7 linked regions of the Homo sapiens genome follow. The protein of the gene in region 7 purifies or fractionates together with the protein of the main gene of each other region. This does not show direct contact. Each region holds a gene or a part of one and is shown on either strand. Other genes may lie near its edges. The genes, in order: SLC39A11, PTPRF, ST7, TAOK2, PTPRD, POM121 and PCDHB16.

Evidence for each region.
Region 1: the proteins of PCDHB16 (region 7) and SLC39A11 purify together in Homo sapiens (affinity purification with mass spectrometry; one large-scale study listed by BioGRID and IntAct). This does not show direct contact.
Region 2: the proteins of PCDHB16 (region 7) and PTPRF purify together in Homo sapiens (affinity purification with mass spectrometry; 2 studies listed by BioGRID and IntAct, with this or other methods). This does not show direct contact.
Region 3: the proteins of PCDHB16 (region 7) and ST7 purify together in Homo sapiens (affinity purification with mass spectrometry; 2 studies listed by BioGRID and IntAct, with this or other methods). This does not show direct contact.
Region 4: the proteins of PCDHB16 (region 7) and TAOK2 purify together in Homo sapiens (affinity purification with mass spectrometry; 2 studies listed by BioGRID and IntAct, with this or other methods). This does not show direct contact.
Region 5: the proteins of PCDHB16 (region 7) and PTPRD purify together in Homo sapiens (affinity purification with mass spectrometry; 2 studies listed by BioGRID and IntAct, with this or other methods). This does not show direct contact.
Region 6: the proteins of PCDHB16 (region 7) and POM121 purify together in Homo sapiens (affinity purification with mass spectrometry; 2 studies listed by BioGRID and IntAct, with this or other methods). This does not show direct contact.

Annotation. Positions count from the first base shown.
Region 1 is NC_000017.11:73,086,189-73,089,688, reverse strand, and holds part of SLC39A11 (zinc transporter ZIP11), read left to right. Parts: intron 1-913; 5' UTR 914-924; coding exon 925-1,032; intron 1,033-3,500. UniProt on the Homo sapiens protein: Zinc importer that regulates cytosolic zinc concentrations either via zinc influx from the extracellular compartment or efflux from intracellular organelles such as Golgi apparatus. May transport copper ions as well.
Region 2 is NC_000001.11:43,621,025-43,624,166, forward strand, and holds the end of PTPRF (receptor-type tyrosine-protein phosphatase F isoform 1 precursor), read left to right. Parts: intron 1-72; coding exon 73-208; intron 209-910; coding exon 911-979; 3' UTR 980-2,642; downstream 2,643-3,142. UniProt on the Homo sapiens protein: Possible cell adhesion receptor. It possesses an intrinsic protein tyrosine phosphatase activity (PTPase) and dephosphorylates EPHA2 regulating its activity.
Region 3 is NC_000007.14:117,131,501-117,135,000, forward strand, and holds part of ST7 (suppressor of tumorigenicity 7 protein), read left to right. Parts: intron 1-384; coding exon 385-460; intron 461-2,623; coding exon 2,624-2,692; intron 2,693-3,500. UniProt on the Homo sapiens protein: May act as a tumor suppressor.
Region 4 is NC_000016.10:29,976,868-29,980,367, forward strand, and holds part of TAOK2 (serine/threonine-protein kinase TAO2), read left to right. Parts: intron 1-870; 5' UTR 871-905; coding exon 906-1,037; intron 1,038-1,221; coding exon 1,222-1,293; intron 1,294-1,384; coding exon 1,385-1,486; intron 1,487-1,931; coding exon 1,932-1,977; intron 1,978-2,106; coding exon 2,107-2,203; intron 2,204-2,327; coding exon 2,328-2,441; intron 2,442-2,549; coding exon 2,550-2,641; intron 2,642-3,500. UniProt on the Homo sapiens protein: Serine/threonine-protein kinase involved in different processes such as membrane blebbing and apoptotic bodies formation DNA damage response and MAPK14/p38 MAPK stress-activated MAPK cascade.
Region 5 is NC_000009.12:8,520,503-8,524,002, reverse strand, and holds part of PTPRD (receptor-type tyrosine-protein phosphatase delta isoform 1 precursor), read left to right. Parts: intron 1-478; coding exon 479-490; intron 491-2,456; coding exon 2,457-2,726; intron 2,727-3,500.
Region 6 is NC_000007.14:72,938,595-72,942,094, forward strand, and holds part of POM121 (nuclear envelope pore membrane protein POM 121), read left to right. Parts: coding exon 1-87; intron 88-741; coding exon 742-815; intron 816-1,252; coding exon 1,253-1,374; intron 1,375-1,819; coding exon 1,820-1,922; intron 1,923-2,222; coding exon 2,223-2,399; coding exon of another isoform or gene 2,400-2,417; intron 2,418-3,242; coding exon 3,243-3,500. UniProt on the Homo sapiens protein: Essential component of the nuclear pore complex (NPC). The repeat-containing domain may be involved in anchoring components of the pore complex to the pore membrane. When overexpressed in cells induces the formation of cytoplasmic annulate lamellae (AL).
Region 7 is NC_000005.10:141,181,198-141,185,186, forward strand, and holds the start of PCDHB16 (protocadherin beta-16 precursor), read left to right. Parts: upstream 1-1,189; 5' UTR 1,190-1,362; coding exon 1,363-3,693; 3' UTR 3,694-3,989. UniProt on the Homo sapiens protein: Potential calcium-dependent cell-adhesion protein. May be involved in the establishment and maintenance of specific neuronal connections in the brain.

The sequences.
Region 1 (3,500 bases), on a different chromosome or scaffold from region 7:
ACATATTTTTCAGGGGTTACAAAGCCCTATTTTACAGGGGTGCCAAATGTGAAAAAGCACCGTCCCCGTCCTCAAGCAACTAAGGCTGTAAAAGATGGAGGCAAAGCCACACTGAGAGAGGACCAAAGCTGCATGCTAGGACAGGGCTGGGGAAGGCCAGAAAAGCCTTGGTCGTGAGGTTGGCATTATGTGGGCTGCAGAGGGTGCTCCGGGTTCTGATGGCTGGAAATGTGCAAGGAAGGTATTCCAGGAGGGAACTGCATGAACAGGGACTTGGAGGCAGGATTGTCTGGGGCTTGTGGAAGGTGCCATAAATAATTCAGTTGAGCTGGAGTTGGGTGCTCGTGCAGGCATGATGGAGAACGGGATTGGAGAGTCGGGGGTTGGTGGGTATCAAAAGTTGGTTGGTGGAGTTTACCCTTTGGCTGGGCAGGTGCGCTGTTGCAGATGTGATGGGGATTAAGATTGGAAGCGTGTTGACATCACCTGAGCTAGTCACCTGTCTTTGGTGGAGGCTGAGTGCGGATGGTGGGCAAGAGACGGTAGAAGAGGCAGATTATGTGGGGGAGGCTGCATCAGACCCTCCTATGCCCCCTTCTTCTGGAATAAACCACATTCTTTGTGCTTCTCTTTGAAACCACTTTTCAATGTTGCAGCCTTTTTTGTGGATTCCCCTGGCATCTCCCTGTGCCTTCTTTCAGATTAAGACGATTTCCAGTTCCTGGGGGACCTGGATAGAGAAGCCTGACCTGTGTGCTGGGTGGCTGAGGGACACAGATGGCGTGGTGGAAGGGTGCATACGGTCAACCTGGAGGGAGGCCAGCTCCCACACAGGGTGTTAGGACCCGTCAGAATATGCGCCTGTCACTGAAACGGACCACCGGTGGCTGACCCTCTCGCTCCTCTTGCACAGCTGTATCCAGCATGCTCCAAGGCCACAGCTCTGTGTTCCAGGCCTTGCTGGGGACCTTCTTCACCTGGGGGATGACAGCAGCTGGGGCAGCTCTCGTGTTCGTATTCTCTAGTGGACAGGTGAGTTGCCTTGCTTTGGTTCTGGATGTTGGTGGGGAGCCCGTTGGTAAAGGGGCACTGTCCCACTCCATGGAGCAGGTTTGTAGACTTTTCAGTGCCCCTGGCCACACCCCCAGGCATTGTGTACTGGGGTTTGTTCGCTGTCTTCTTATTTTCTCACCTTCTCCCTGCCAGGCCGGGAGAACAGATGTCTGCTTGCTGTAGACACCTTCATGCACCATCATCTCCCCTCTTGACCCTTGACAGCCTGACTTGAAGGGAATAGGAAGTGAGAAGCCCAGTTATTGAGGCTTCGTTAGCCCGCTGCCTAATTTCTACCTGCCATGTAATTTCTTTTCTTTTTTCTTTTTTCTTTTTTTTTTTGAGACAGAATCTTGCTCTGTTGCCCAGCCTGGCGTGCAGTGGCAGGATCTCAGCTCTCTGCAACCTCCACCTCCCGGGTTCAAGTGATTCTCCTGCCTCAGCCTCCAGAGTAGCTGGGATTACAGGCATGTGCCACCACGCCTGGCTAATTTTTGTATTTTTAGTAGAGGTGGGATTTCACCACTGGTCTCAAACTCCTGACCTCAGATGATCCACCCACCTCGGCCTCCCACAGTGCTGGGATTGCAGGTGTGAGCCACCGTGCCTGGCCTGCCATGTAATTTCTTTCAGGCCTGGAGCAAGTGGTACTATGCGTGACCGAAGAACATTAGATTTCAGGTGTAACTGTCCTCCCCTGTGGACTTGAGTTGGGTGGGATGGTTGGAAAGACCTTGGGAGAAGAAGGGGCATCTGTTCCCTTTTTTTTCAACCCATCTCCAGGTTGTTTCCTTTCCCCTTGGGATGAATATAGACAGACCCATGTCCCTGGCCCCCTGCAAACTCTTACTTCTTTCTCCTACATCTTCCTTGTATCCTACTCCCAGTGCCCTCACTCACTGTCATGGCCCCACAGCCTATCTCTCCCTCCTCCCACAACCCCATCCTTACACCCCTTCTACACGCTCTACCTATAGTCCCACATACCCACACTTGCACACATACCCATACCCATATGCCCTCCCCACACCTCTGCACAACCCACACTCACCTCATATACCTGAAATTGCATTCTTTTCTCCAACCCAGATCACCCTCAGTCCGCAGCCCTGGAGCCATCCATGGGTATCTTGATGAATGCACAATCCCTGCATCGATCACCTCGGTAGCCTGAGACATTGTAGAAACGGCAAATGAATAAGTGACTTAAGATCTAGTTCAACATGTTGTGAGGGAGATCTGGAAATGAAAACACCTTTAGGAAGTTCACAAGTCAGGCACTCTTGTGTTAGAGACCAGTACAGCAGGCCTTGATTTCAACAATAAAATCCCGACCTCCCTTGCTGCGCTGCACTGCCCCCGGGAGCTGATGGGTTGGAGACTGGAAATCAGAAAACACACAATCCAGAAACATGGTTTATCTGGAACCTAGGTATATAAGATGCCAAGATAAGTCAAATTCACAGAGACACATTGTAGAATGGTGATTGCCAGGGGCCACAGAGGAGGGCAGAAATAAGTTATTCTTGAATGAGTACAGAGTTTCAGGGTTTTTTGTTTTTGTTTGTTTTTTTTTTCTTTAGACAGAGTCTTGCTCTGTCACCCAGGCTGGAGTGCAGTGGCGTGATCTTGGTTCACTGCAACCTCTGCTTCCCAGGTTCAAAAGGTTCTTCTGCCTCAGCCTCCCGAGTAGCTGGGATTACATGCATACACCACCACGCTCAGCTAATTTTTTTTGTAGTTTTAGTAGAGACGGGGTTTCGCTGGTAACCCCATCCGGCCAGGCTGTTTTATTTATTTATTTTTTATTTTTTTTGAGCTAGAGTCTTGCCCTGTCACCCAGGCTGGGGTTCAGTGGCATGATCTCAGCTCACTGCAACCTCCACCTCCTGGGTTCAAGTGATCGTCCCACCTCAGCCTCCCAAGTAGCTGAGACTACGGGTGTGCACCACCATGCCCAGCTAATTTTTGTATTTGTAGTGGAGATGGGGTTTCACTATGTTGCTCAGGCAGGTTTTGAGCTCCTGACCTCAAGTGATCTGCCTGCCTCGGCCTCCCAGACTGCTGGGATTACAGGTGTGCACCATCATGCCCAGCTGAGTTTTAATTTTGTAAGGTGAAAAGTTCTGTAGACCACATGGCTTCTTTCACTTCAAAGAATGTCCATAGAGCTCATCCACGTTATAACATGTGCCAGAATTTCTTTTGTTTTTAAGGCTGAAGACTATTCCATTGTATGTACATACCACATTTTGTTTATCCATTCATCTATGGATAGATAGCAAAAAAAAAAAAATCTGTATTGAAATAGAAGATGCTTATGGAAAAATGCACATTTTATTAGGCTGGTGCATTTTATTAGGTTTGCACCAACCTAATATAAGTATGCAGCTTGATAACTTTCCACAAGTGCTCATGAAACTAGAGCCCAGATCAAGAAACAAAAC
Region 2 (3,142 bases), on a different chromosome or scaffold from region 7:
TGGGCCTGAAGGCCTGGCAGACCCACTGCATGAGGCAAGCAGGACTCCTGACCCAACTGTGTTTCTGAGCAGTGCTGGCGTGGGCCGCACCGGGGTGTTCATCACTCTGAGCATCGTCCTGGAGCGCATGCGCTACGAGGGCGTGGTCGACATGTTTCAGACCGTGAAGACCCTGCGTACACAGCGTCCTGCCATGGTGCAGACAGAGGTAACGCAGACCAGGCTGCAGGGCCAGGGCCTTGGCAGCAGCGCTGCTGGGAACCCTAGGCTTTAGCAACAGTTTGATGCCCACAGGCATGTGCATTCATTCATGCTGCCAACCTTTCACGTGGCCTGCGATAGGCATGGTGGTGTGTGCTTATGGTCCTACCTACTTGGGAGGTTGATGTGGGAGAATCACTTGAGGTCAGAAGTTCGAGGCTGCAGTGAGCTATGATTATACCACGGCACTCCAGCCTGGGTGGCAGAGCAAGACCCTGTTGCTGAAAACAAAACAAAACAAAACAAAAATGCTGCAACATTGCCTGTGCTGCCTGGGGGCTCAGGGGATTGATGAGTAAGATGTGTTCTTTCATTCGGCAGCTCTCTGCTGAGCCCCAGTGGTGTGCCTGGCTCTGGGCAAGGTTGCACAGAGCAATCCTTATGGGGTGCCCAGTCAGGAGCAGAGAAACATGATTGGGATGGCAGATGGAAGGCAGGTAGATGTGGGGGCCTGAGAGAATGACAGGAGAGAGATGAGCCTTCAGAGGCTCTTTCAGGCTCCCCCGCACACTGCCTGATGTAGCTGCCAGGGTCCAGCACCTGCTCTTGGCCAGCAGAGGCTAACTCCATGGCTGCAGTGTGAGTGTCAGCTGTGTAGTGGGGGTGTCCACTGGCGCGACCCACACTGACCAGCCCCCTATCCTGGCAGGACCAGTATCAGCTGTGCTACCGTGCGGCCCTGGAGTACCTCGGCAGCTTTGACCACTATGCAACGTAACTACCGCTCCCCTCTCCTCCGCCACCCCCGCCGTGGGGCTCCGGAGGGGACCCAGCTCCTCTGAGCCATACCGACCATCGTCCAGCCCTCCTACGCAGATGCTGTCACTGGCAGAGCACAGCCCACGGGGATCACAGCGTTTCAGGAACGTTGCCACACCAATCAGAGAGCCTAGAACATCCCTGGGCAAGTGGATGGCCCAGCAGGCAGGCACTGTGGCCCTTCTGTCCACCAGACCCACCTGGAGCCCGCTTCAAGCTCTCTGTTGCGCTCCCGCATTTCTCATGCTTCTTCTCATGGGGTGGGGTTGGGGCAAAGCCTCCTTTTTAATACATTAAGTGGGGTAGACTGAGGGATTTTAGCCTCTTCCCTCTGATTTTTCCTTTCGCGAATCCGTATCTGCAGAATGGGCCACTGTAGGGGTTGGGGTTTATTTTGTTTTGTTTTTTTTTTTCTTGAGTTCACTTTGGATCCTTATTTTGTATGACTTCTGCTGAAGGACAGAACATTGCCTTCCTCGTGCAGAGCTGGGGCTGCCAGCCTGAGCGGAGGCTCGGCCGTGGGCCGGGAGGCAGTGCTGATCCGGCTGCTCCTCCAGCCCTTCAGACGAGATCCTGTTTCAGCTAAATGCAGGGAAACTCAATGTTTTTTTAAGTTTTGTTTTCCCTTTAAAGCCTTTTTTTAGGCCACATTGACAGTGGTGGGCGGGGAGAAGATAGGGAACACTCATCCCTGGTCGTCTATCCCAGTGTGTGTTTAACATTCACAGCCCAGAACCACAGATGTGTCTGGGAGAGCCTGGCAAGGCATTCCTCATCACCATCGTGTTTGCAAAGGTTAAAACAAAAACAAAAAACCACAAAAATAAAAAACAAAAAAAACAAAAAACCCAAGAAAAAAAAAAAGAGTCAGCCCTTGGCTTCTGCTTCAAACCCTCAAGAGGGGAAGCAACTCCGTGTGCCTGGGGTTCCCGAGGGAGCTGCTGGCTGACCTGGGCCCACAGAGCCTGGCTTTGGTCCCCAGCATTGCAGTATGGTGTGGTGTTTGTAGGCTGTGGGGTCTGGCTGTGTGGCCAAGGTGAATAGCACAGGTTAGGGTGTGTGCCACACCCCATGCACCTCAGGGCCAAGCGGGGGCGTGGCTGGCCTTTCAGGTCCAGGCCAGTGGGCCTGGTAGCACATGTCTGTCCTCAGAGCAGGGGCCAGATGATTTTCCTCCCTGGTTTGCAGCTGTTTTCAAAGCCCCCGATAATCGCTCTTTTCCACTCCAAGATGCCCTCATAAACCAATGTGGCAAGACTACTGGACTTCTATCAATGGTACTCTAATCAGTCCTTATTATCCCAGCTTGCTGAGGGGCAGGGAGAGCGCCTCTTCCTCTGGGCAGCGCTATCTAGATAGGTAAGTGGGGGCGGGGAAGGGTGCATAGCTGTTTTAGCTGAGGGACGTGGTGCCGACGTCCCCAAACCTAGCTAGGCTAAGTCAAGATCAACATTCCAGGGTTGGTAATGTTGGATGATGAAACATTCATTTTTACCTTGTGGATGCTAGTGCTGTAGAGTTCACTGTTGTACACAGTCTGTTTTCTATTTGTTAAGAAAAACTACAGCATCATTGCATAATTCTTGATGGTAATAAATTTGAATAATCAGATTTCTTACAAACCAGGACTCTGTCTCAGCTGTTTCTGGAACCAAAGAGTCTGGGCCAAATCAGTAGCTAGGATGGGTTCTGGAGATTCCCTGCTCCTGAGGAGACGGGGAGGGTACCCTAAGTATTTGTGCCAGTGTAGGCTCCTGGCATGGCTACCCACTTTCAGAAAGGAGTGGTTATAAACCCTGAAAACCAGGCCACCAAGAGCCAGCCAGGCCAGAGCCACCAGTGCATGTGAAGAGCACCCTAGGCCGGGGAGCATACCCTTTGCCTCTCTTTCCCTTTAAGATTCTGTGGGTTGCACTATCGGGGCATTGGGACTGCCCCTCTCCCACTACCTTGGAGGAGAGGGATGGCCCTGTGGCAGTAGAGACTGAATGTATGGAAATTGGTTAGTGAGATCTCCTGTAATTATTGCAATGTGGATAATGGACACAAAAAACAGTGTGTCCATCTGGCCCCTGGACACACAGCTGCATCACCCACTGAGCTGTGCAGCTGCTCCACTGGT
Region 3 (3,500 bases), on a different chromosome or scaffold from region 7:
TTCGGAAAATGACCAATTATGTTGTATCTAAGTGAATGAAAAGGTTGGTAGCAATGTCATCTCAAAATGCATAAAATATATTCTCCAAGAACAAATGACATTAATGTGCAAAAGACACGCAAAATCTCTGTTAGAGTGCCTTTTCTTGATTTCCTTAGCCTGTAGTTTTGTGAGCACAAAAAAGGTTTGCTATCAGCAGTTGAAATACTGTGGAATAGCACATTAATACACTAATATGACTTTGGAGATTTTGGCCAACCCTCTTAGCAATGAAATATGTTCTTGTAATTTAAGCTGACACTCCTAATTTAGCTCTTGTCCTCTACTGAGTCTACCTAATTATATGTATGGATTGACTTGGTGTTTTCTCTTTTTCTTAAATAGTAATGCAGAAAGCCTGGAGAGAGAGAAACCCCCAAGCTAGGATTTCTGCAGCTCATGAAGCCTTGGAGATAAATGAGTAAGTGGGGGAAAATCTTGCTGTTAAAAAGGAAATCTCATCCTTTGCTGAATATATTCAGTTGCCATTGATAGGATACTTAAATTAAACTGCATTTGAACTGGAGGATTATTTGGGGAGTTATTACTCTATTTAAAAAAGTTTTTTTTTTAAATGAAGGACAGCCACCATGTGGAGGTGGTTTTAGTCATTTTATGAATTCAATGGCTTTGCTGTGATCCTAAATTAATTTCTTGAAGGGCTATCCCTAGGATATTGTGAGGATATAAAATAAATACAATTCTTTACATATCTAAAACATTCTGACAGGGAAAATTTTCCAGATGTAGAATGCTCATCTGCACTAGAACATTTTCTAGTAGAACTTCTGCTAGTGGGGAAAACATGATAACAACATAAGGTTTAAAAAAAAAATTTTAGAAAATACTTCAAGATTAAGACAAAGATAAGAGGAAATGCTGTCTTGAGTGTTGTTAAACATTCTGTGGGTTACCAAGGAAGGCTGGGAAATCTCTTCTGGAGATCTCAGAAAATGAGAAAGATTCTTAAAGTTGGAGTCATAAAAACTCAGGGTTGGCAGAGACCTTAAAGGTCACTTAGCTGAACCACCCATCTGGTGCTTGAATCACCTCAACACTATCCTTGCCAAGTGGTCATTGTTAAACTATTTTATGATTTTTCTGAAGAAGGTTACAGAATCTTCTTCAGAGATCTTAGGGAAAAAAAAAAAAGATTGTCGTGAGAGTTGAAAATCCTGCCATTGTAACCAGTTGATCTACGGTTTCTGATTCTGTCATGCAACATATTTATTTTCCAGTTTCTTGTCATCTACAAATTCGATATGCCTGCCTTCTGTGTGTCATCCATATTTCTGAGAAAAATATGAAGGCCAGGAATAGAGCCCTGTGACATGACATAGAAACTACCCTCCAGGTTCATGTCTTCATGAATCACCATCTTTTGTATTGTTCACTCAATTACTAAGCCACCCAGTTACACTGTGACTCAGCTCATATTTCTCCATTTGGATCTTAAGAATGCCAATCGTAGCTGCGGATCTTAAATTTATAGTAAATCTATTACAGTAAATTAAGCTAGCACAATCTGATTTATTTATTCTTAGTGAATATAAGCTGGCTTCTAGTCGTCACTACTTTCTTTTTAAAGTGCTTGGAGACCATTCCTTTAATAATCCATTAGAATATCTTTCCAAATCACTGTGTTCTGTAGTTTGGGAAGTCTGCCTTCTTCCCCTTTTTGAAAATTTATGCTACATTTATCATCTCATCTTCTAGCACCTCTCCATTCTTTGTGATTCCTCAACTATCCACAGAGAGCAATTCCATGGCCTGCCTACAAGGTCTTTCGGTTTCCTGGGATTTGCCCATCCAGTCCAGTAATTCATTTAGAATGGATCAATTATTTGCTATCTTACATCTTTTTACCCATTTTAGAGTTTAATTTCTTCTCCCTTTTTCAGTCTGACAGTCATTCTCCTTGATAGAGAAGCCAGGAACAAAATAGGAGGGAGAGAGTTTTGCTTTTTCTTTATTATCTACTGCTTTTAACAATAAACCTTCCTTGTTTTGATGTTATTATGTTGTTTGTCTTTTTTTTTTACTTATTTGCCTTTGTGACATGGGGACGGTGATAGGGCCTTAAATATAATTTTAAAATAGGGAATAAATGGTTGTCTTTAGTATTTTATTTTGTTTTATTATTATTATTATTATTGTTATTTTTGCAAGCTTCAGCTAATTTGGAATTGTAGCTCTCCTGACATTATTCTTATAAGCTCATTCCACTCTCTTATAGACCATCATTACATGCCCTCTTTCCATCTTTTAAAATATGTCCTTTAAAAATCTGACCTGGGAGAAATCTCTGTGAAGCCGTGTTGGTTACTTAAGTGCCACCCCTCTTTTCTTCCTGAGAGGATCATTTGTGATTGCAGTTACAGTTGAACATTTGGAAGCTGCTCAACCCTCTTAAACCATTTTTCCTTCTGAATCTCATGCCATTGAATCATGCCTCTTTTCTTTGAATTTTTTGAAGTCCACCTTCCCCTCTTTGATTACCCTGAACTCCGAAATGACATAGTGACTCTCTCTGAATGTTCCTATCAATTTTCATTTTACCAACTATTTTTTTCTTCTTGGTCAGAATTAGGTCCAGAGTTGAAGTTCCCCTAATTGCTTCCTCTACCATCTGGGAGATAAAATTGTTACCAAAGTAAGTCAAGAACCTGTTGGGTGCCCTACTTCTAACCAAATGAGACTTCTAGTGGATATCTGGATGGTTGACACCCCCATCACCACACTTTCTTGCTTCTGTATGTGTATTGTGTTGTGACAAGGATGCATCATCTATATCTTCCATCGAGCTGAGCAGTCTGTTCTGTACTCCCCAACCATTAGCACTTCTATTGCTCTCTCCTTTTTCCTTCACTCACAAGCTCTTAGCATGTTTCTATCCCAAACTCATGCGTTTCCACATAGATGTATGTTTCTTGGCCAGTAGTGCTACTCTGCCTCTCCTCCTAAGAATACCATTTGAAATATAAATAAGCAAAGCAAGCAAGCTAGCCCCAACCATTCTTGGGTTCCCAGCCCAACAACTACAATCTTATAGCTAATTCCTCTGATACTGTATCTACCACTCAGTATTACAATCTCAATTTTCACTTCATTACCCTTGCCTCATATTTATATGTTGGCATCTGAAGCCTTAAGCATTTCTTCTGATGCCTGTCCCAGTTATTTTCTCCAGTGAATCACTTGTATAGTTTCAGCATCATTATGGTTCTTTCCAAGTCATGGATGCTGCCATCTGTAGAAATTGGTTTTATAGCTGTTTTTCTGGGCATTTTTCTCCCTACCTCACCACATTGTTTAAAGCCCCATTGATGGTTCCTGCCTGAAATTAGAGAGACTGGCTAAAGACCTTACAGACCCTTCCTAAGGCTAAGATTAACTAGTAGCCCCAGCCCTTACATTAGCTGTGAAGTTCAGCCTCCTTTTCCTAGCTGGCTATTGCAGTT
Region 4 (3,500 bases), on a different chromosome or scaffold from region 7:
AAGGGCTGCTCTGAAATCATAGTGATGGAGGACCAGCTTTGGACAAGGCACTTAACCTTGCTGAGCCTGTTTCTTTATCTGTAAGATAGGGGAAATCATAGTACTTGCTTCATAAGGTTGTAGTGAGGACTGAATAGAGATAATGCACGTAAGGTACTCAGTAAATGTTATTTGTACCCTGCAAATGTCCTGTACCTGTGTGTGATGCTTATGCAGTTGGACAGGACAAGTAAGGTGGCCCAGAGCACAGAGAGGCCCTCATAGCCAGATGCCATTTATATCCCTATTCTTCCCATTCTAGATCTCCCCCTGACTTTTTTGAGAGTGACTTTGCGGGCTCCTCTGGGCCAGTACCCACTTCTAACAATGGACGGATTTCCACCGCCTCCGGCCTGGCCATTTCCTGTTCTCTTCCAGGGTGTGAGAGGTTGAGGGAGGAGGGGGCCTCAGCGCCAAGGGGAACAGAAAGGTGCCTGGAAACAGTTGGGGTATAGGACTTATGGGACAGGACACTTGGGGCTCTGGAGTGCTGGCTGGGAAGCAGAATGTTTTATCCTTGAGGGGAGATACAGGGGCTATAGGGAAATGAGAACTTGTTGAGCACTGAAGGGGGTGGTGAGGATACTTAGCTTCCCAGAATCTTCCTAGCAGTTTTAGGGACTCCAGGGACCCAGCCCGCGTGATCTGGTTGCCAGGGCAACTTCATTTTTTGGAGCTTTGATGTTGTTCCTAATCTCCCCCTCCCCTTCCTCAGCAGTGCCTCCTCCTCATCAGGGAATGAGGGGAGGAGATGGCAGAAACTTGATGGGTCCCTTCCTCTCCCTGAAGGCTCAATCCTTGATCTCTAAGGGTCCCATTTCCATTCCTCAGGCCAGGCCCCACTCTCAGGGCCCCCAGGGGCCACCATGCCAGCTGGGGGCCGGGCCGGGAGCCTGAAGGACCCAGATGTGGCTGAGCTCTTCTTCAAGGATGACCCAGAAAAGCTCTTCTCTGACCTCCGGGAAATTGGCCATGGCAGCTTTGGAGCCGTATACTTTGTGAGTTGGGTCTTGGGAGGGTGTAATAGGGATGGGGACTCTTCCTATCCCTGTGGACTTCCCAACAGCCCTTGCACACTACTCCATCACACTGGTCTTTCCTGCCTTCTCTTGCTGGGCCAGCAAGTCTTCCCATGCCCGGCTCTCAATGGGGCCTTCAACACCTTCTGGTCTGGTCCTCTAGGCCCGGGATGTCCGGAATAGTGAGGTGGTGGCCATCAAGAAGATGTCCTACAGTGGGAAGCAGTCCAATGAGGTGGGCCAGGTGCAATACAGCCAGGTTGGGGACAGGGGACTCCTGTCTCAAGATGCAAGCTGGGTAACCTCTGCCTACCCTGACCCCCTAGAAATGGCAAGACATCATCAAGGAGGTGCGGTTCTTACAGAAGCTCCGGCATCCCAACACCATTCAGTACCGGGGCTGTTACCTGAGGGAGCACACGGCTTGGGTGAGCTGGTGCCAGATTCTGGCCTGATCTTTACTCCTATTCATGCCCGTCCTTATCGTAGTCCAGTCTCTTAGGTGGTCCCTGTTCGTGGTGCTGTTGTGGGATCTTGGGAAGGAGGAAGTCTCTTTTGACCGCTTTAGTCCTCAGACATACCCACTGAGCAAAAGCCTGGCTCAGTGACACAGGCTGTTAGCAGGTGGGACAGGTCACTGTGGGCTGGAGAAGGTGGAGATTGAATGGGAGTTTGAAGGGATTCAGATGGGCAGTGGTGAATGTCTTGGGCCCAGACTCTAGAAACTCTCCCACCACCCCCTCATTGTCTCCAGTTGCGCTTCCTCCCTGTCATCACCCCGGGGACATAGCTTGAGTACAGGACAGTCAAGGAAGCTCTGTTTTGAGTCCCTGCCCAGGAGACTCTGATCTCTGACCCTTGTCTCTTCCTTAGCTGGTAATGGAGTATTGCCTGGGCTCAGCTTCTGACCTTCTAGAAGGTAAGTGACTGATAGGCCAATAAGTGGAGAAGGGAGAAGAGCAGGGGAGCCATAGGGAAGGGTTAAGGGGAGTTTATTCCAGTCCCACCCTTGCGCTCCCTCGGGTTGATGTTCTTCCTCACTCTCCAGTGCACAAGAAACCCCTTCAGGAGGTAGAGATCGCAGCTGTGACCCACGGGGCGCTTCAGGGCCTGGCATATCTGCACTCCCACAACATGATCCATAGGTACAAGCAGCACCGGCAGTGCCTGGGAGGGGAGTGCTATCTGCACCACCTGTCACTTAGCTGGGCTGCCCCTGCCTAGCTTTCTTGAGACACATGTCTCATCCCTGTACTTTGCCTCTGGCAGGGATGTGAAGGCTGGAAACATCCTGCTGTCAGAGCCAGGGTTAGTGAAGCTAGGGGACTTTGGTTCTGCGTCCATCATGGCACCTGCCAACTCCTTCGTGGGCACCCCATACTGGTGAGTGAGTGAGTGGTGGTGAGTGGAGAGACCTCCCAGGGATGTTGGGAGTAGGAGTGACAGGGTCTCGGCGGGTGATTTGCCTCTCTCTCCTGACCATTCTCCTAGGATGGCACCCGAGGTGATCCTGGCCATGGATGAGGGGCAGTACGATGGCAAAGTGGACGTCTGGTCCTTGGGGATAACCTGCATCGAGCTGGGTAAGAACATCCTCCCTGTTCCCTCATCATCTTTTCCATTCTTTCCTGTTAGTTCCCAGACTCCGGACTACCCCCTTCTCCTAGGGATGGGATCCCAGGCCTCCAAGTTCCTGTCCGTTGTGACTCTACCCTGGAGCCCAATACAGGCAGCTGGCAAATTCTGCCAGCTCTTAGGCCTAGAGATTTTGTAGCATTCATCTCTTCCTGTCCACTACCCTGGTTCTGAATCTTTTCTTAGTGCCCACCATGTGCTGTGCCATGGACTGTGATTCTGGAGGGATAGCAGTGAATGAAAATCCTGCCCTCATGGAACTTACATTTGATTTAGGGAAACCAGGCAGGCATGTTTTCTTTCAATGTGATGAACGCTGTGTGGAGAAGTTACAGGAGCGGTTCAAATGTAAAACAGGGGACTTGACCTAGTTTAGGGGCTGAAGAAGGCCTCCTTGTAGGAGAATATTGAAGCCAACCTGCAAGATAAATAATAGCTGTTTGCAGAATGTAGGGAAGAGCTTTCCAGGCAGAGAGAACAGCATGTGAGAGGCCTAGAGGTAAGTGCAGGCCTGGGGAACTGGGACTAGCTTCAGTTATTTGGAACCTAGCATGTAATGCAGAGAATATTGAAGGATAAGGCCAGAGAGTTAGGTCCAAGTGAGTTCCTAAGGCCTTGAAGCCATGCCAAGGTTCTCATCTCTGTCAGCCAGCACTATTGAAACAATTCTTTAATGAGGTAGGTAACCTTTATAAGGCTTCCAACACAATGCCAGGCACAAAACAGTTGCCTAAGAGTTGCTGTTAGTTTCTCTTATCAACAGCCTCCTGCAGTGATCTCTCCAGTCTCTTCTCCCTTCCAGTCTGT
Region 5 (3,500 bases), on a different chromosome or scaffold from region 7:
AAAAGACTGAGAGGGCTTTAAGTTACAATAGGATGGGTTCCCTTAAGAAAATACCTAGCTTGATTTTGAAATTTTTGTTAGAGGTAATTTTGTTTCCCTGGGGATGTTTTTCTCTCCTTTCTTTTTTTATGGAGTCTGGGGTGGGGAAATATGAAGAAAGTCATTTCTTCTCTAAATTCTTCGAAAGTCCCTTGATCCTTTTTCCACAATAGTGACCTCCCTTGCTGCATGAGGCATGTGTACCTTCTTCCATGGAAAATTTCAAAATGATGCTAGCTATTGTTTCTAATACCATGTTAGTCTGTGAGATATTGCTAACTTTTCCAGCTGAGATAGGAAGGATGAACTAGAGCGAATAAAGATGTTCAAGTAGCAGTTGAAAGCCTTGATATGGCCTTTTTACTCTCTCTGTGTTTCCCTTGTTTTTCTCCTTTCCTCATTTCATTGTGTTCTGCATCAAACCCCCTACATCCCTCAGAGCTGCGAGAAGGTTGGTGTGTTTTTTACTTTTTACCCACCTTACAAAACTATTAATTAAACCAATAACAAAGAATACAAATGAAATGAATGTAGCTGCATTGTGTTCTTCTTTTGGTTAATGGTATGTTTTAGCAGAGAATGCCCTGGCCATGGCTTCTGGTGCTTGCTGGTGGTATCTAACTGTGGTGCATGGTGGGAGAGAATGTACCTGGGTGCATGGTAACTGGTAACACTTAACTCTGTAAGGTCCAGTGAACTTGGTCAGTGTTCCTGCTTTCCTTCCTGCTCCACTGTCCCCATCTCCCACCCTGCCTTTAATTTCTGTCTTATAAGGATGCCTGCTGCCCATAGAATGACTTTTTCTAGTTTCTCCCCTAATCCCAAGCATGAAGACTAAACTCTCCTCCATTTTTCTTGATATGTTCTTTGATACCTCAGAGTCTACACTGGCTCCTGCTTGCTTTGTGTAACCTCTGTGAATTGGCTGCAGGAGGCATGCTTAGCTTTCTCTTCTTCTCCTATGACTGTCATTCACCCATGAGGCCATTGCAGTGAGCCATCTCAAATAAGCGGAGGTTTATCTCGACCTTAAGAGCAGCCAAAAAGTTTTCAGACAGAATTACTTATCTTCTTCTTGGGGTTATGAGGTTACTTATCAGTTTATTTATAATTTTTAAAAAATCTTTATTAAATGTATTTAAGGTGTGCTCCCTAAAGATTACCCTCTAGATCTCAAATTCTTATGGTATGACATTTTGCCAGTAAAAGCCCCAGATGAAACCAATTTATCTTTCACTTTCTCCTTGTATCACATCCAAAACACATTTACTTAAACACACATAAACCTGCAGATTATCTGAAGCAGGAACACTGAACTGAAATTGCTTGGTAATTTTTCTGTGTTATGTTGCTTTAATATGATCTCTTCTCTTAATGTCATGTCCTGCTGTATGTTTTAGATCCAGTGTCCCTCAATTTGAATGTGGGCATAAAAAGCCTTTTAAAAGATTTTGTTGTCATTTATGTTGTTTTACCTTTGATATGAATTGAATGGAATCCTGTATGTGAAACACCCAGCTCCCTTTCTGAATTTGCAATCCTTACCTTTAACAACTTGAGCTTAATCTTCTGTCTTTCAACCCTGTCATCCCCTAAGTCCCTGTGTTTCAATCGTTATACTTTACCTCCCCCTTTCACGTTTATTTCTATTGCCCCCTTATTTCTTCTGCGGTCATTGCTGTCTTGGATTCCAGCCATTCTTTCAATATCCTTAGCACGGGCCTTGAGATTCCATCTTGTGCATGCCTTGCATGACCCAATCCAGTATCTCTACTGGTGTTAGCCTGTTTCTTCTTCTGTGACTGTAAATCAATATGTATATACATTTCTGTGTTTGTTCCAGTGTTAGTGTGAGGTCTTGAGGCTGCATCCACTATGAATCTGAAAACATAAAGTGCACTTTCAGTGTACTCTAGGTGATGTTTTCCAGGGCTGGGATGTGACAGTGTGGTCCCACACCTACATTCACATCAACTGGAAGTGCACAGCACTGAAGTTGGTTTTGATACTCAACTTAAACATGCTGGTGACCTTCCAGCCCCCTTTTCTGCATATACATGCCTGCATAGAATCATTGTTATATGCCTGCATGTATATGTTTTTGTGTTTATCTTATGCATGATGTTTGTGTATTGTTAGTTTGTAGATAGTTTTTTGTGGGGCCCTTGTAGGTCTGAATCAACTTTTGTATTAGTGTGTCTAAGATATCAATGACTAAACTAAATAAATAATTCTGTGTATACACACACCATACTTGTATGGTCTGTATTATCCACAGTTTTTCTTTATGTTTTGTTTTTGGACAATCCACAATGTTTCAATTGTTGAATCGTGTCTGTACGGTGCATGTCATGTGTTTAATAATCCACTTTTTCTTGCCTTGTATATGTTATCATTTCCCTTGTGTTTTGTTCCAGTTCGCCGTGTCCCACCAAGATTCTCTATCCCACCCACTAATCATGAAATCATGCCAGGCGGAAGCGTTAATATCACCTGTGTGGCCGTGGGGTCACCAATGCCTTATGTAAAGTGGATGTTGGGGGCAGAAGATCTGACACCTGAAGATGATATGCCAATAGGAAGAAATGTGCTAGAACTGAATGATGTAAGACAGTCAGCAAATTACACCTGTGTTGCTATGTCAACACTGGGTGTCATTGAAGCAATAGCACAGATCACTGTCAAAGGTATGCTCAATGGATTATGCTTTGAGGATCTGGGTACACTCAAGCCAAGTGACTAATGCCTCTAGAAAGCCCATCCTTGAAAATCTAAAATAATTCATTATTCAGCATTTTAAATGTGTGTATAACCTAATCATATCTGTGGTATTATATAACATGCATAAGCCTAGATAGGCGGATTTTTTCTTGGAAGTATCTGGCAGCCTATGTAGAGATAATCATCAGAATATTAAAAGACAGTCCATGGAGGCCCAGGCACTAACCAGACAGAACTAGGAATTTTACACATGGTCGACCATTATGGTGGGACTGATGTGTACAGTCTACATACTAGACCAGAACCTTGATAAGAACCCCAAGAAAAGTCAATATGAGCATTAATAAATGCTTAAAATTTCTAAATACAAAGGAAAAAGAAGAAAAAAAAAGTTGAAATCAACATAGTCTAGTAATAGATGATTTAACTTTTTGGTGAGCCCTACTATTAAAAATCAAAAGGCAAGTAAGAGTATATTCTGTTGTAGTTTTATCTTTCACCTTGCATAGATGAGTGCTCAAGGAATATTCTTTCCTTTAAAAAACAGACTAAATATAACCAAAGTACTATATTACATGAATATTTTTGAACTAAAGAGAAAGAGTACAAGCATGTAAGGGTACCGTTTTTTTTTCCCCTAGTGTTTATAGAATTCTAGAAAGTGTTTGCAAATTGAGTCAGACATAGGGCAACTTAAGTTTTCTGCAGATGGCTAGAACTATTGCAAAATGAACACAAAT
Region 6 (3,500 bases), on a different chromosome or scaffold from region 7:
GAAGAGAAATGGCCCCAGTTCATCACCCTTCTCTAGCCCAGCCTCCTCCCGCTCCCAGACACCGGAGAGGCCAGCAAAGAAAATAAGGTACTTGGCATTCTCCTGCAGTTTTCATTTGCTGCGTGGACAGGCGGGGGTGAGGAAAGGTGGGAAACGAACCTGGCTCTTAGGCTTTGTGCTGCTGTGACTTGGAGAATCAAAGAAACTTAAGTCCCTGAGAGGTACAATGCAGTACCCACCCGAAGTGCTGTCATCCCTACAGTCTTGGATACTGACTCCAGTGGCCTCTGGCTGTCGCCTCCCACTCCAGCATGAGGGATCGGGTGCAAGCACAGAGGCCATGCAGAGTGGAGAGCAGAGAGAGTCAAGTCAGCGGGCAGTCGCCTTCAGGTTCTTGACTCGAGCTGACCCCCTAGGTGCTTGCAGTTGGCTGGAATGCCACTCCCTCAGGGATCACATCTGTGTCTAGAACTCCCAGGGACTTGATAGGTTGTAAGTAAGGTTTGAAGATTATTGTTTTGTGCTTGTTTTAAGACAAAAGCTGTCTTCATGGCCTCTGTGAACAGCCTCCCTTCATTCTGTTGGAATTTCCTGTTGACTTTTTTTATCCTGGCATACTGAGATCTTAAATGATGGTTGTTTTAGACATTGGCCACTTGGTAGTTAGGAGGGTGTGAGAAATTATTTAATACTTCAGCCAAGAAGCCTTTCTAGACTAAATTGTTCCTTTTTTCCTGACAGAGAAGAGGAGCTGTGTCATCATTCCAGTTCTTCAACTCCATTGGCAGCAGACAGGGAGTCCCAGGGAGAAAAGGGTAGGTTGCTGAGCCAGGAGGAGGGGCTGCTGTTGGTGGTGGAGGTGTTTGTGGAGGATGTAGAGATTAATACCTATTGAAAAAAGGTCTTGAGCATTGCTATGTCTAAGGCATGTTAGATACAAAGAGAGAGATTTCCTCTCCTTCAGAAGTTTATAGTCTGATGAGGGAGAAAGGCTACAGACAGGGACTAACGATTGGATAGAGGTAAGCTCAGTTTGAGTCACCTGTGGGTGATCCCAGTAATTACTGCACAGTAAGCGGTTTGTGTGCGCGCCTTAATCTTGCAAACACCATCCAAGCAACCAAACCATAGAAGATTGAATCTTTTCAGAGATACCCATTGAAAACTCAATGTGAAATGCGAAGTGGGTAGACACAACCATCCATTTCTGGAAGAGGGAAGGAAGCAAACGAGTCTTGATTTCTTTCTTTAGCTGCAGATACAACCCCAAGGAAGAAACAAAACTCGAATTCTCAGTCTACACCTGGCAGCTCTGGGCAGCGTAAGCGGAAAGTTCAGCTGCTGCCTTCTCGGCGAGGGGAACAGCTGACCTTGGTATGGTCTTGTCCATCTACTCCTGCCCTCCCCGGCTTAGCTCTCCTAAGTATTAGGAACGCTAAGGACAAGTTTCTTCTGATTTTTTTTCTAATTTATTTTTGTTTTTGTTTTTTGAGACAACATCCCTCTGTCACCCAGGCTGGAGTGCAGTGGCTCGATTTTGGCTAACCGTAACCTCTGCCTCCTGAGTTCAAGCAATTCTCCTGCCTCAGCCTCCCAAGTAGCTGGGATTACAGGTGCTTGCTACCACGCCTGGTTGATTTTTTGTGTTTTTAGTAGAGATGGGGTTTCACCATGTTGGCCAGGCCGGCCTCAAACTCCTGACCTCAAGTGATCCAGCTGGCTTGGCCTCCCAAAGTGCTGAGATTACCGGTGTGAGCCACCATGCCTAGCCTTCCCGTTTTTTCTGATTGGCCTGACTTCTTCTTTTTCACTTTGGTAGCCTCCACCTCCCCAGCTTGGCTATTCGATCACTGCCGAGGACCTAGACTTAGAGAAGAAGGCTTCATTACAGTGGTTCAACCAGGCCTTGGAGGACAAGAGCGGTAAGGAGCACAGATTGTTGCACACTGGAGAGGTTTCAGGTGTCTGTTTTCTTTGGTTTTATTTTGGTGTTTGAAAAAATGGGTTTCTCTGGGAAAATCCCAAGTAGGGTTCCATGTTTTCTTGTGGTCTTTCTCACCTGAGATATCCGTGTTGGTCTTCACGGGAACTGGACAGCAGGGACCACTGCAATTGAGGGCAGGCATTCCTCCATGAGCTGTGCTGAGAGCCTGCTCTCCGACAGGCATGTGGAAAGAAGTCCCAGACAAGCCAGGACTGCTTCACCTTTCTTTCTTTCTTAGATGCTGCCTCGAACTCTGTCACTGAGACCCCACCTATCACTCAGCCTTCATTTACCTTTACCCTGCCTGCTGCTGCACCTGCCTCCCCACCCACCTCCCTCCTGGCCCCAAGCACCAACCCACTGTTAGAGAGCTTGAAGAAGATGCAGACTCCCCCGAGCCTGCCACCCTGCCCAGGTGAGCTGGAGTGGGGCCGTGGATCCAGCCTTCTGAGCAGCATCCCCGGCTTGAGTTGGAATAAGGGCGTCGTGCCTGTCAGTCGCTGGAGATTGCTCTGCAGGCCGAACGCACCCTGGCTCAGCACACCGGAGCGGGCCCACGTTTAACAGCGCCAGAGCCCGCATCAGGAAGTGTTAGAGAAGGGGTGCTGCGACGCTCAGGATCTGAAGCCTGGCTCGTAGCTGCCCTGAGCCTCGCCTTCCTCATCTGTCAGATGAGAATGATCTTCCCTGTGCGGCACCTCTGAAGTGTGAATGTGGTGGCGTGGTCAGGATATCCTTGCCTGTCAGAACCACTGGTCCAGAACAGCACTGCTTCCTTTCCCTCCAGCACTTCGAGGGCTGCTGGTGTTCCCGGCCCAGGCCTTCACGGCACTGCGCGCGCACACCTCTTTATCAGACGGTAACCTGGGGTTCGTACGCACCCTCCCTGCTCAAGGGCAGAGACTTCCCCATTCATAGTTGTGTGCTCTTAGCGCCTGGCAGGTGAGCTTAGTAGGCAAATAAAGTATATCTAGATTCATACGTGAACTTCAGAGTTCAGACAATTGGACTGTCTTAGTCTCTACACATTAGGCCCCCATTTAGGCCCCATTTTATCCCCTTCTGTCTGATGATCTGTGAGGTAGAAATAACACTTCCTTGATTTACTGTACAGGCCTGTAGTGTAGACTTAGCTGAGTTTATTGACTGACTCTTGGATCCCAGGCTCTGTGGTAGGCGTGGGGAGGACACTGAAATACTGAATACCATCATCTTTGAAGTGTTTATTCCAATTTCACATTTTCTATTCTTCTTCCAGAATCTGCTGGAGCAGCAACCACTGAGGCCCTCTCACCTCCAAAGACACCCAGCCTCCTACCCCCGCTGGGTTTATCACAGTCAGGGCCGCCAGGGCTGCTCCCCAGCCCCTCCTTTGACTCCAAACCCCCGACCACTTTGCTGGGGCTGATCCCTGCTCCATCCATGGTACCAGCCACTGACACCAAGGCACCTCCAACCCTTCAGGCAGAGACGGCTACCAAACCCCAAGCCACATCTGCCCCGTCCCCCGCCCCCA
Region 7 (3,989 bases):
GTAAAAATTTAAAATATAATCTAAGTCTAGCCAATATGCTATATGGTCAGGCATTAACTGATAGCATTGTTTTTCTAACTAAGGAAGTGAAATTTATGTTATTCCTACTCCTACTCCATGAACTAAACTCTCATGTGAAAATATAAGTTTTAGTTTATAGTTTGTTTATACTACTCTGCACAAATATACCCATGTTCTTATCAAAGCTCTAAGTATGCTGGGACAGATACTACAAATGAACTTTATGATGAGCGAATTAACCTGATTTATAGTCCTGTACTTTCTCTACGTGCCATATCCATTATTAAAGAAATGAGTCTAAGTAGGAAGTAGAGTTAACCTATAGTTTCATTTCTTGAATTTCTTATTCTCTTTCTTCAGTCTTTTTCAGTTAACCTACACACACACACACACACACACACACACACACACACACACACATATGTTTATAAGTGGGATGGGAGAACGGGTACGGTGATAATTAAAAGAGGTAAGGTTTCTCTTGAGATGAAAATGTTCTAAAATTGTGATGGCGGATGCACACCTCTGAATATATTAAAAGCCATTGAAATGAAAAAAGGGTGGGGGGAATCCAAAAGTGTAGCAGACCCAACCTTGAGATTTGCTTGTTTGGGAATGAATTTTCCAATAACTTGAAAGTTGTAAAAACTCACACTTCTCAGGGTTAGGTGTCAGAAAGAAAAGGAAGTAATTTATTCTTTAATAAAGCAATTGTTAAATACTCTTTAGAACTACCACTGATTGCAATTTTGCAGTGTCTACTCATAGTGTCTATATAGGTACCATGAAAAAGATGTACTTGTGAAACTGTTCTCATGTTACTTCAGAAAAATTTTGCTTCTAAGTGTGTATTCTATGTCTGGTTAAATGTTCATTGAATTTTATTTAATCATTAATCTCAACAGCATTAAACAGTCAATAACATAAATGACAGTCTTCTCTTTGTACTCCTCCCTGTACAACATCACAGAGCTCCATCTGTATACACGAAAGTCACATGAAAATAGAACTCAGTGTTTTGTATTACATAGTCTATTCAGTACATTTAGAAGTATTTTGCCTCCAATATTCAACCACAGTAAAAGACTCAGTGAGAACGCGTGGTGGCGCTGCAGGTTAAGATGACGGAAAATACAACTGCCTACGCAGCTCCAGGATCCAGCAAACCGTTTCCCAAAGCCTGGAAGCAGAAGAATAGCTGAGCCAGAGCGAACGTGAGTGTGAAACCTCTTTAAGACACCGTTGGGCTGCTTGGTTCTGACATTCTGGACTGCAAAACAGTTCTACTAGGATCCTGGGGATACATGAAGCTTCTGTGAACCAACTTTTCAAGAAAAAGCAATGGAGATTGGATGGATGCACAATCGGAGACAAAGGCAAGTCCTTGTTTTCTTTGTTTTGCTGAGCTTGTCTGGGGCGGGCGCCGAGTTGGGGTCCTATTCCGTAGTGGAAGAAACGGAGAGAGGCTCTTTTGTGGCAAATCTAGGAAAAGACCTGGGGTTGGGGTTGACAGAGATGTCCACCCGCAAGGCCAGGATCATTTCCCAGGGGAACAAACAGCATTTGCAGCTCAAGGCTCAAACTGGGGATTTGCTCATAAATGAGAAGCTAGATCGAGAGGAGCTATGCGGTCCCACTGAGCCTTGCATACTACATTTCCAAGTGTTAATGGAAAACCCTTTAGAAATATTTCAGGCTGAACTGAGGGTGATAGATATAAATGACCATTCTCCCATGTTCACTGAAAAGGAAATGATTCTAAAAATACCGGAAAACAGTCCTCTAGGAACTGAGTTCCCTCTGAATCATGCTTTGGACTTGGACGTAGGAAGCAATAATGTTCAAAACTATAAAATCAGCCCAAGCTCTCATTTCCGGGTTCTAATCCATGAATTCAGAGATGGCAGGAAATACCCTGAGCTAGTGTTGGATAAAGAGCTGGATCGGGAGGAGGAGCCTCAACTAAGATTAACCCTGACAGCGCTGGATGGTGGCTCTCCACCGCGATCTGGAACTGCTCAGGTCCGTATTGAAGTGGTGGACATCAATGATAACGCTCCTGAGTTTGAGCAGCCCATCTACAAAGTGCAGATTCCAGAGAACAGTCCTCTTGGCTCCCTGGTTGCCACCGTCTCCGCCAGGGATTTAGACGGCGGAGCCAATGGAAAAATATCATACACACTCTTTCAGCCTTCGGAGGATATTAGTAAAACTTTGGAGGTAAATCCTATGACAGGGGAAGTTCGACTGAGAAAGCAAGTAGATTTCGAAATGGTTACGTCTTATGAAGTGCGCATCAAAGCCACAGATGGGGGAGGTCTTTCAGGAAAGTGCACTCTTCTCCTGCAGGTGGTGGACGTGAATGACAATCCCCCACAGGTGACCATGTCTGCACTCACCAGCCCCATCCCAGAGAACTCGCCTGAGATAGTAGTTGCTGTTTTCAGCGTTTCAGATCCTGACTCCGGAAACAATGGGAAGACGATTTCCTCCATCCAGGAAGACCTTCCCTTTCTTCTAAAACCTTCAGTCAAGAACTTTTACACCTTGGTAACGGAGAGAGCACTCGACAGAGAAGCAAGAGCTGAATATAATATCACCCTCACCGTCACAGATATGGGGACTCCAAGGCTGAAAACGGAGCACAACATAACAGTGCAGATATCAGATGTCAATGATAACGCCCCCACTTTCACCCAAACCTCCTACACCCTGTTCGTCCGCGAGAACAACAGCCCCGCCCTGCACATCGGCAGCGTCAGCGCCACAGACAGAGACTCGGGCACCAACGCCCAGGTCACCTACTCGCTGCTGCCGCCCCAAGACCCGCACCTGCCCCTCGCCTCCCTGGTCTCCATCAACGCGGACAACGGCCACCTGTTCGCCCTCAGGTCGCTGGACTACGAGGCCCTGCAGGCTTTCGAGTTCCGCGTGGGCGCCACAGACCGCGGCTCCCCCGCGCTGAGCAGAGAGGCGCTGGTGCGCGTGCTGGTGCTGGACGCCAACGACAACTCGCCCTTCGTGCTGTACCCGCTGCAGAACGGCTCCGCGCCCTGCACTGAGCTGGTGCCCCGGGCGGCCGAGCCGGGCTACCTGGTGACCAAGGTGGTGGCGGTGGACGGCGACTCGGGCCAGAATGCCTGGCTGTCGTACCAGCTGCTCAAGGCCACGGAGCCCGGGCTGTTCGGTGTGTGGGCGCACAATGGCGAGGTGCGCACCGCCAGGCTGCTGAGCGAGCGCGACGCAGCCAAGCAGAGGCTGGTGGTGCTGGTCAAGGACAATGGCGAGCCTCCGCGCTCGGCCACCGCCACGCTGCACGTGCTCCTGGTGGACGGCTTCTCCCAGCCCTTCCTGCCGCTCCCAGAGGCGGCCCCCGGCCAGACCCAGGCCAACTCGCTCACTGTCTACCTGGTGGTGGCGTTGGCCTCGGTGTCGTCGCTCTTCCTCTTTTCGGTGCTCCTGTTCGTGGCGGTGCGGCTGTGCAGGAGGAGCAGGGCGGCCTCGGTGGGCCGCTGCTCGATGCCTGAGGGCCCCTTTCCAGGGCGTCTGGTGGACGTAAGCGGCACCGGGACCCTGTCCCAGAGCTACCAATACGAGGTGTGTCTGACAGGAGGCTCAGAAACAAGTGAGTTCAAGTTCCTGAAGCCGATTATCCCCAACTTCTCTCCTTAGGGCACTAGGAAAGAAATAGATTAAAATTCCACCCTTCACAATAGCTTTGGATTTAATTATTGATAGGAACCCATTTGATAAATTCCTTAACTTCTTATGATTGTCTTGTTGATTAAATTGTTCATGCTCACCACCACCAATAAGGTATTTTTCTCTGATTGTTAGTTCAAATTATATTGTTAATTCCAGTTTCCCTTTTCCTCATATTTACCCCGAAGAGGTGTTGCATATAGAATCCCAATTAACAAAATATACTTTATCTTCAAAGTTGATGTCATTTAAAATTTTTCCGTCTT